Linked DNA regions of Homo sapiens: region 1 is linked to region 2. The links come from fine-mapping of genetic effects on gene expression. A gene starts in region 2. The other region holds a variant in brackets. All regions are shown on one strand. Distances are between the middles of the regions.

Evidence for each region. PIP is the estimated chance that this variant, and not a neighbour inherited with it, causes the effect. A credible set is the group of variants that fine-mapping cannot tell apart.
Region 1: its variant is the best candidate, but not a certain one, in a credible set for the expression of DTHD1 in testis (GTEx, PIP 0.79).

What each region holds. Positions count from the first base shown.
Region 1 is chr4:36,317,241-36,322,631 of GRCh38, forward strand. The region is part of intron 8 of DTHD1 (death domain containing 1); the gene reads left to right. Among named protein-coding and RNA genes, the nearest start is that of DTHD1, 38 kb to the left of the region's middle. The variant A/G (reference allele first, on the strand shown) is at 2,302.
Region 2 is chr4:36,278,565-36,283,955 of GRCh38, forward strand. It overlaps DTHD1 (death domain containing 1), which reads left to right and starts at 3,052. Exons shown (of 10, transcript NM_001170700.3): 1 at 3,052-3,465. The coding sequence starts at 3,195.

The sequences.
Region 1 (5,391 bases), 39 kb after region 2:
TTAGCAAATATTAATATTGAACTTCTGAAATAGGGGATGTGCTGCGCTAGGCTTTGTGATAAATACAGAGCTGTAAAGGATAATACATGCCCTAAAGCTGTGTTGTTCTGAATGGTCACTACTGCCCATATGTGGCTGTGGAGCACTTGAAATATGGCTAGTCTAAACTGAGATGGGCAGTAAGTTTAAGATACACACTGCATTTCAAAGACTCAGTACAAATAATATATAAACTATCTCATTAATAATTTGTTTACATAGACTACATGGTAAATTTATATTTTGGTTATATGAGGTTATATAAAATATATAAAAATTAACTTCCTCTTTTATTTTTTAAACATCTTAAATAGTTACTATTAATAGAATATTTTAAACTACATATGTATCTCAAATTATATGTCTATGGAATAGTGCTTCTCTAAATGAATTTATAATCCAGTGAATAAGTACACAAAACAATACACAAAATTACGTTGTAAAATAGTAACTGATTGAAGTTATATTTAGGTGATATAAACAGTGGTACTAATAGTTGGTACTAGATGGTACTAATAGTTGTTCAGAGAAGGGAAATGGCTTTTTTATAATCTGTAACCAGTAGAAGTTTTGTGGTGTTTGTGGCATTTTATCTGAGCTTTGTAAGTTGGTGGAAATTCAGACAGTGGAAATGAAGAAAAAAGGCAAGTTGGGGGAGAGAATATAATGCATTTGACCGGGGTGGTAAGCATAGCTTAGCAGGAATTCACAAGTTGTGTAATAACCATTGTAATAATGTCTAATATGCCAAAGGCCTTTCAAATACTTAACATGCATTGTATCACTAAACCCTCACAGAAATCCTATGATACATAATTGTTCTTATTTTATGGGAAACTGAGGCACAGAAATTTTAGGCAATTTGCCCAGGTTCTCATGGCTAAGTAAATGGCAGAGCTAAAATTCAGACCCAAGAAATCTGCTTCCTGTGTGTTGAATGGCTATTATGCTGTCACTTTGTTAGCACATAAAGCTAGGATTATTAGTCAAAGATACAAGATGGATTTTAGGGCATCCAGGTACACCTTTGATGTTGTATGATGTCTGTACTATGCTTTAGTACAGAGATAATATTAGAAATATTTAACAAATGATATGACCTGGACACCAACCAGTGAACTTGAAAGCAGCCCTCAGTACAGAGGAACAGTCTCCTGGCGACATTAACTTTACTTGCTGTTTTGGGGGAGATCCCGTGGTCCATGGGAAGCATGCATAAGTAGAGGAATTTATTAAGCCATTGATACTGAAAATGAGGCTTTGATGACAGTATAGCCAGCCAATCTGGTGTACATCTATCAGTTTTGCTTCTGTGCATTTTCTTTTTCTTTTCTTTTTTTTTTTTTTTTTTTTGAGACGGAGTCTCGCTCTGTCGCCCAGGCTGGAGTGCAGTGGCGCGATCTCGGCTCACTGCAAGCTCCGCCTCCTGGGTTGACGCCATTCTCCTGCCTCAGCCTCCCGAGTAGCTGGGACTACAGGCGCCCGCCACCACGCCCAGCTAATTTTTTGTATTTTTAGTAGAGACGGGGTTTCACCGTGTTAGCCAGGATGGTCTCAATCTCCTGACCTCGTGATCCGCCCGCCTCGGCCTCCCGAAGTGGTGGGATTACAGGCGTGAGCCACTATGCCTGGCCTCTTCTGTGCATTTTCATTTCCACCATAAGACTTTGCACCATACGGCCGTTACTTACGCATGCGGCAATTTTCCCTGAGATAGTCCCATAGCTGCTTCTTTATCATTCAGGGCTCAGCTCAGATGTCACTTGTTATTCTTATTCCCTTATCTTCTAATCTGAGGTCACTTTTTTAACTTGTTACCCTTTCTCGATTTACTTCCTAACACTCATCATTGATATTTTTAGATTTATTTGTTCATGTATTTTCTATTTTCCTTTGCTTCTTTAAAAAGCAAACTCCATGAATGAAGGACCCTGTCTATTCTATCCAGGTTCCTTCTTCTGTGATTAGAACAGTGCCTGGCACATAGTAGGCACCCTAAATATCTATGACTTGGTGAATAAGGGGAGGTCTATAGCTGTCTCCAGATTCTAAAAGTTTAAGAACTATTGACTTGAAGGAATACTCAAATTCTCTCTGTTCCGTAGTTTAGAGCCTGATTCTACAAACTCTTAACTGACAGGCTAAGGCATCGATGTGGATCAGCATGAAGATGTGGAGTGGAGAGGGGTACCTAAGGGCTGCTCTCCAGGCAGCTCAGCTGGCACATTGCTTCCAGAAAGCCTCACGTTGCTTTGCTGCCAT[A/G]AGAGGATGAAAGGGAGACAAGCCAGTGGTGGTTGGAATTCTCTGGCAAGAGGCGGTAAGGGCCTTACTGAGATGATGGCAGACCATGCAAAGAAAGGCCGTTATGTCAGAGACGACAGACATGAAGTCCAAAAATGTGATAGGAATTCAGCTTTCACTTATTAGTGTTTCCTCTGTTGCCTGACTTTATAAAAGTAGCCAAATTAGTCAAGCCAAATTAGCCAACATAGATAATTTAGGGGTTTGTATAGATTTTCCTCAGTAAAAGTCTGTGTTTACGATTGTCCAGTACTTTTGCGTCAGCTTCTTCTCTGTTTTGCTTGTAACACACCATTCCTTACCTATGTGCCTGAGTAATTCTTACTGAACCTCTTTCACATCGGTGCTGAAGTGCAGCCTTGCCAAGGAAGCCTTCCCTCACTCCTCCTTTGTACCAGGTTAAGTGTTCCTGGTATATGGAGCTACGGCATTTTGTACTTTCCTTATCACTGTAGTTACCATATTTCATGACATCCACTTGCTTGTTTCCTTCCCTTGTTGCTGTAATGGCTTTTCAGGGAGTCTTTTTTTCTGAAATATTTTTTTTTCTAATCACCTCTCCTTGTGAAATTTTATTACCACGGATATACTGTATGTCTATGTACCATATATTTATCTGTGTTTTATACATCTGAAAGAGTAAGCCTTTTTGTGTCTCAGCCAAGAACGAATTTTCTCTCCCCAAGGGTGACATTACCAAAATTGAGAATGCATGCAACGAACTGCGCAGGCACAGACACTGTCCAGCTCAACTCTGTATTGCCAGTGCGGACACATAGTACATGCTTGATAAATATTTGTGACTAACTAGATGAACAAGATAATCTCTGCAAACCTTACAGTTACTCAACCTTGAAATTGATAATCCTGAAACTATATTGGCATGTTTAAAAATAGTACATTTAAACTTCTGCTGTCTTTCATAGATGAATCTACTGCCAATAGGCCATCTGTGCTTTCTTTTTATTCCAGATGGGTTCGTATAGGGCTTTCCAGATTCACTCTTTGAGCCCTTTCTTGTGCCCAAAGTCTTCAGAAATAAGTTTGTCAGGTTGAAAAAGAATCTGTGGCTGTGGGAACTTTTTTCTTTTCAAACTAGTATAACTAAATGGGAATTGAAACTATGACATTTAGTTTTGCAAGATGAGACTTATTTCATCAGAATTTAAAAAATTCACCTCAACTAAGCAGTATTAGAATGTGCTATTTTTCAGGAAATGGAAGTAGCCTAATATAGCAGTAGCTTGGCATTAATGAACATGACACTATGTGGATATTTATACATGTAGCATAAAATAGGTGAAGGTATTTGTCAAAATTAAAAGTGCTTCACAGAGAACAAACAGTAAATATTTACATATATGTATCTAGGCATAGAACCACACACATAATTATAATGTGTGATGTTAATATACTGTGTCTGATTCATAAAGATGAGAAGACATATCACTTTTTACTTCATACTTGTGAGGATCTCTGCGTCTCTTATTCTTCAGCCTCTGTAGTTCATTCATTCATATATTAATTAATTCAACAAACAGTGTATCCCAAAGGCTCAACGTATAGTGGTGTCCTGGTATGTAGGGTCTCATTTTTCCCTTTCTTCTTTATAGCATGTTTTCAACTCATAGGCAGAGTTATCCCTTAAAGCAGGAGTCCCCAGTCTCTGGGCCATGAAATGGTAGCAGTTCGTGGTCTGTTAGGAACCAGGAGGTGAACGTTGGGCAAGTGAGCAATGCTTCATCTGTATTTACAGCCACTCTGCATTGCTTGCATTACTGCCTGAGCTCTGCTTCCTATCAGATCAGTGGCGGCATTTGATCCTTGTAGGAGTGCAAACCCTATTGTGAAATTCACCTGCCAGGGATCTAGGTTGTGTGCTTCTTACAAGAATCTAATGCCTGATAATCTGTCACTGTCTCCCATCACCCCCAGCTGGGAACTTCTAGTTGCAGGAAAACAAGCTCAAGGCTCCCGCTGATTCTACATTATGGTATATAATTATTTCATTATATATTACAATATAATAATAATAGAAATAAAGAGCACAATAAATTTAACTTGCCTGAATCATCCTGAAACCATCCCTCCAACATGGAAAAATGGTCTTCTACGAAACTGGTTCCTGGTGGCAAAATAGTTGGGGACTACTGCCTTAAAGCATTAGTCAAATCATCTCATGCCTCTGCCCCAAACCCTTCAGTGGCTCCCAGCTTCCATCAGAATAAAGGCTCTGTGTGAACTTGGCCCTCACTGACTCCAAGGCATTCTCTGCTCTACTCGCCTCCTCACTTATTCAACCACAGTGACCCTCTTGAGTTTTTGGAATATGCCACACCTGCTTCTGCTTTAGGTCTTTGTGTTAGTGATTCCCCTTGCTGGAATGTTCTTCCATCAGATATCTGCATGTCTGTTACCCTTACCTCCTTCAGTTCTTTGCTGAAACTTCACCTTCTCTCTGTGGTTTACCCTGACTCTAACATTGCAATCTACTCTTACCCTGCAACCTGACATTCCTAATCCTCTTTAATCTGCCCTATTTTTTCCCTCTAAGTCATTTCTCCGTTTTTACATGTGTTTCTTCATTTGTACATTTCTTGCAGAAAAACCCTCTCTTCCATAACTAGAAAGTAAGCTCTGTGAAGACGGGGAACATTTTTTGTTCACTGCCAAATCACAAGTACCTAGAATGGTGTCAGGCATAAGTTAGATGCTCAATAAACATGAGTGAATGGGTATATATAAATAGAACTTGCATTTTATGGACCAAAAATGTGAGGAGGACAGTGAGAAGTGCCAAGGAAGAAAATAAATTAGCATTAGAAGATGGACAGAATTGGTGGTGTGAGTTGGTAGGTGGGATAGCTAGGGAAGACCTCACTGTGGAGGGGACTACCGAGCTGAGGAGCAACCGGAGACCAGAACCTTCCTGTATGGCCAGGAGAGCATCCAAGTGGGAGACGCAGCAAGTTCCAAGACTCCGAGACGGGCACGCATTTCAAGTCAAGGACTCGAAGGAAGGCTGTGATGGTCAGTGCGCATGTGAGGGCC
Region 2 (5,391 bases):
GAAAAATAGCAGTCTTCATTATGCTTTAAAACTTTATTGTCTTCACAACCTTTGCAATTAATAGCCTGTCATTAATAGCCTGTCCAATCAACTGCATATTTTTATTTCTTTAGGTACTAAACAAAGAACTATCCTACTATTTGAATTTTATCTCTAATCCACTCTGATACTTTTAATGTTAAGAAAAACTGTTGTCTTTTTGACCACATAATGGTATGAATTCAAGACTGCATACTAACGTCAATGGAAGCACTGAATTTTCAGTAAGAAAGTAAAAGGAGTCATAATAACTAGTAGCAACAATGAAGATGACAATCAAATGTTAAAATCATCCAGATGAATTTCTGCAGTGAACTTCTGTAGGTGTCTTGACTGCAAATGTCTGTTCTTTCTGTGGTTAGTGACATCAATTAATGGAAAATAAGGTGCAGGAACATGCTGATGCGTGTTTTAACAAGTAAATGCAGTGTGGCCTGTGGTAGGTCTCACTTTGCAAATATTATATGTTCTTAAGAAGCCAAACAGAGAACAAGTTTAAACTTGAGGATAGCAAATGTGAATGAAACAAAGAGAATGTCTGGGTTTGTTTTTTTCTTCCTGAGAAAGGATTTTCCCACATATCTAGAAATAAATGTAGACTGCTCAAATGATCAAGCAGTATTTCATTATCAGTTTTATTCAATACTTAAAATGTGCATGGTAAATTCTCCATTGATCTCTTCTACTTCCAGGGATTCATTTACCACTTATTTACTGGTAACATTCAAATATGCCAATATTATTCTAATTTTTAAACTTAAAACACATTCTAAGGAATTTTTCTGAGTTACCTCAAACTCAACAAATCTAAAATTAAATTATCTACCCATCGAGCCCAAAATCCCACTTAAATTCCTTAATAGTCTTATAGTCTATGTAATCACCTAAATTAAATATTTCAGTCATATTCTAATACTAAGCATAGTTCTTATACTAGTGGTCAATAAATATTTCTCAAATAAATGAATGCATTTTCAATACTTTCTATTCCTCTCCCTATAATCTGATGGTTTGGTAAGTTTAGTAAGTTCTATCCACTGTACTTCAAATCCCCTCTCACGCCATCCCCTTCTCTCATCTGCTCTGTTGCTGTTTTATACAGACCTTCGAGCCTCCTAACTCTTATATCTCTGTCATCTAATACATCTGCATCTCTACAGCACAGATTTCATCACATTGCAGTCTGATTCAAATATATTCAATTTCTGTCTTATCTGTAAACCAAAATTCTAATTTCTTCTCCTCACTATCTACAATTACTGAACTCTTCATTTGTCACCTCTGACTCGTTAACTGAACCTTCCTCCAAAGCCATACTTTTACATTTTTGATCCTACTGTGTAATCTCATGCCTCCGTGACTTTGATCATATTATTTCCTATGCTGGAATATTTTTTTTCTTTTACTCCATAGCCTGCTTATCCTTTAGTTTCTAATTCAAACATTTTCCAGGCCTCTAAGCAGAATTATTTTTTTAACTCCTCAAAGCTTTTATGATACTTTTTCTTTATACTTCTGCTCTAGCTCTCAACACAGACTAAGCTTTATTTCAATAATCTGTTCATGCATCTGTCTCTTGAAATCCTAAAAAGGCCTGACCTCCAGCACTTAGTTCCTGTCCCACAGTAAATGCTATAGGAAGTTTTCAAAATTAGCATTGAATTAAAGCCATGTGTACATTATTATTGAGAATGACACATCCATTTAAGGAGTAAGAAAAGAAAATAGAATTGAATGAGTGAGTCTTTAGTTTGAGAAGATTTAAATGATCCAATCCATGAAGTGATATGAACTCATACTGCGAAAAAGGTCCCCTTTTCAGTGAACAGAAGTTAACTGAAAAATAAGACACTTAGTGGTGAAGGAGCCCCTCTCCACTCTGCAGCCACCAGTACTCAATACTGCTCCTTTCCTTCAGGGTCTTTGACAGTCTTTAGGGCAGTGGCAGTCATTCTTCATTATTTATTCTCTGGGCTTGTTTTTCCCATCTTGTCTTCCAGGTGCCCTGAGTGTAGCTCTTAGAACTCCAGGGCTTAAGATGAGATAATGTGTTGCCTGTGGGAGGGAAGCACTCCGGCTTCCACTTGAAAAGCTTTCATTTTGTTCCAGTACCCGAGGGAACATGAGCCTCTCTGGAATGTACTTGCTGCCCTCTTCCTTTGGCTTAGGTGTGTGTTCTCTCTGAGCAGTGGGATTGGAGAGAGGGAGGCAGACTGTTCTGGTTTCCTCCAAATACCCGCAAGTGCTGCATTGCATAGCCCCATATATGATGCGCTGGCAGGCAGATGGGCAGCAGTGGGGAGAGCTTGTTGTATCTGAATTTTAATTACATATGGTAAAGAATCCTTGCTAGTTTAGAGAAAGCTACTCTTCAGGTTTACTTTCTTTCAGTGAAGGGGCATTTTATCCAATTAGAGGGAAATTATCAGAGGCCAAGTTCTTATCTCAGTCTCTGCAGATTTACCACATAAGAAGATGCTAATTATAACTTCCTAACCAATGCAATAGGCTCTGCTCCAGTAGAGGAATCTTTTTAAACTCTTGGTTATAAAAATACTATACATATACACATTAATTAGAGTGAATTGTCAAGACCCCATGTGTAAACATATCCAGCTTCAACATTTATTAATTCTTACAGCAAATTTTATACCTCTACCCACCCCTATGCTCCCTGATTATTTAGAAGCAAAATCAGACATCACATTATTTCATTCATAAATATTTTTAAGTTTACAGGAATCCTGCCAGCAATATTGTTCATACAGTTTACCTTTGATTAATAAACTTCTTACCCTACCTGGAATCTGTATTTTGTTGCCTCAAAACTTGAAAAGTATTTGGTACTTCCACAGTATATTGAATTTGTAAAACTTACACAGAGAGTTGGATCATGTGAGTCAGCTCTACCCCAGTGATTAATGTATTCTGTACACAGTAGCACCCATGGTACAGGAACGCCCCTTCTTCGGTCACCTAGTAACTTTTCACTAGTCAACACCAAACTGAATAACCACTATGTTGTGAGAAAGTGCTGGGCTAGCTGACTCGGATCATCTCCTAGAGTTTAGGAGAAATAACAATCACAAAGTTTGAATTTGCAAAACCTTTAGGCTTTGCTGGCAGGAGAGAAAATACCACTTTTGGATCATAAAATGGATATGGAATACATGGGCTCAGGTAAACTGGGCCAAATATTGAAGCAGATTTGGAGACAAAACCAGATGCTAAAGCAGGCACTCTTGGGTGATGACCTTTGTGAGGGGGCTGGTGGGGCCACTTGGATGGCCACTGTGGTCTTTCTGGGTCAGGAACTCAGCAGTGCCCTTCACCAGCTGCTGGAGCACACCTCAGGCACCCTGCGTTCCACCTGCCAGCAGCTGCATGTGCTGCTTGACAAAGAGAATCAATGTGTCTCGAGAAAAGGCAAGTATTCTTTTTTTTAGTTTATTCTTTCTCTAAGAAATATTGATTAGGGCAAGATCTGAGAGGGGCTATGAGTATACCAGATAGGCTAAGATAGAGTTTCTGTCCACAAGAGACTAACAATTTCAAAGGGGAAATAAGTTGAGACAAATGCACAATAATGCCAGGGACATTGGGGCCAGTCCCATTAGAAACACATGAATGAAGTGCTTTTGGACTTCAGAAGCAGTTTAAATCCCATCTGTAGGGTGGGGAATTGAGAAGTTTGCTAGAAAAATGTAGTATTTAAGCTGAAGCTTAAAGAGTGAATTGGATTTATGCAGCAGGAAAGAGAGAGTCGGTAATTTTAGTAGGATCCAAGACTTAGAGACAGGAAAATACAGGCCACTGAGGCAGAGCTAGTAGTTTGTTTTTTATATCAGAATATAGTATTCTATCTCTAGGGTCATTTGAGCTTAGCCTTATTGATTGCAAAATTACTGGGAAGACTGGAGTGGGTTGGGATAGGGAATTGGATCCCCATGCACTGGGGCTGGAGAGGGATTCTTGGGAATAGGTCCAGTTATGGATGTGGAAAAGTACAGTAAGGCAGGAAGAATGTGGAATCTGATGAATATAATCCTAGATAACAACAGTTACTCCAGATAAGCATATAGGTGGCATCATGAAATTCAACTCTAAATAATACAGTATCAAGATAAGTGGGCAGGTTCCATCTATGAGGAAATCCAGGGTAGATGATGTTAAGAAATTCAATCTAAAGGGCAAATAGTGGGCATCAGGGAAATCTGTCTAAAGGCAGCATGACTGAGAAGCCATCAGCTGCAGCCCACAATGAGACCTTTAGCCTCTGGAGGGAGTGGAACATGGTCTTTGGCAATATAACAAGCAAATATATATTCAGAAAAAAACAAGGACTTGGTTACCAGAATAGGAGTTAAAAATAAAGACAAGTTCTCAGGTATAAGACAAAAACAAAACAAAACAAAACACAAGTTGTCAGAACTGGATCCCAAAGAAAAGCCCTGACTGGTGAAGGGATGATTTGGTGATGGCTTTAAAAACACTAAGCTATGGGGCCTTAAATTACCTATTCTTTAGTTCAGAACTGAATTCTAAAGACTAGAGAGGTACTAAGCCTGCAAGAAGTCATCAGGTGACCTCAGTAGTGAGGAGAAGCAGGATGAACAAATAGGAGAGTGGGAAGAATGATGACGGAGTGAGAGATTATATAAGATTTGATCATGCTAAGAGTTTACTTCAGAGTGAAGAAGGTTGACCTGAGTTAGTAGGCTTTGAGTAGCCACTTCAGGTTCCAATCAGAGAATTGGTATGGTCAGAGCTATTCTCTGAAGGACTAATTTGAAAATTTCCAATGCTCACAAATTCATCAGGAGGAATAGTATAAACCTAATCCAATTCTTATAGCAGTAAACTAGGCTCCAAAACAAAGCATCTACATTGGCAGAAATAATGGAGGTATGGTGTTTCTGCCACCCAAGCCTCATCTGGAGTGTTCGCCTAATTTTCAGCCCAGCATTTTAAATGGATCATTGATAAACTATTGTACATCCAGTGGTAAAAGAAGAGTTCTCAAAATCATACCAAATGAAAAACAATTGAGGGAGATGTTGACTTCAGTTCTTATTGGGGGAGCAAGAGGTTATGACATTTGTCTTTAAATATTCGAAGTATCTTTATAAGCAAGAGGGATTAGATTTACTCTTTGCTACCATGTTAAAAATGGTTTGTTGTCAATCCTACAATTGTTAAAAGAGTGACAGTTATACAATTACTTCTCCTTCAGGAGTTTGGCTTAAATGCACAGTAAAGGTCTTTGTAGGTTTCTAAAATTATCTTGCCATGTTTCATTAGATGTCAGTGCAGAAACATAATTTGGTTTAGTTTTGTATTTATTCTTTGTGT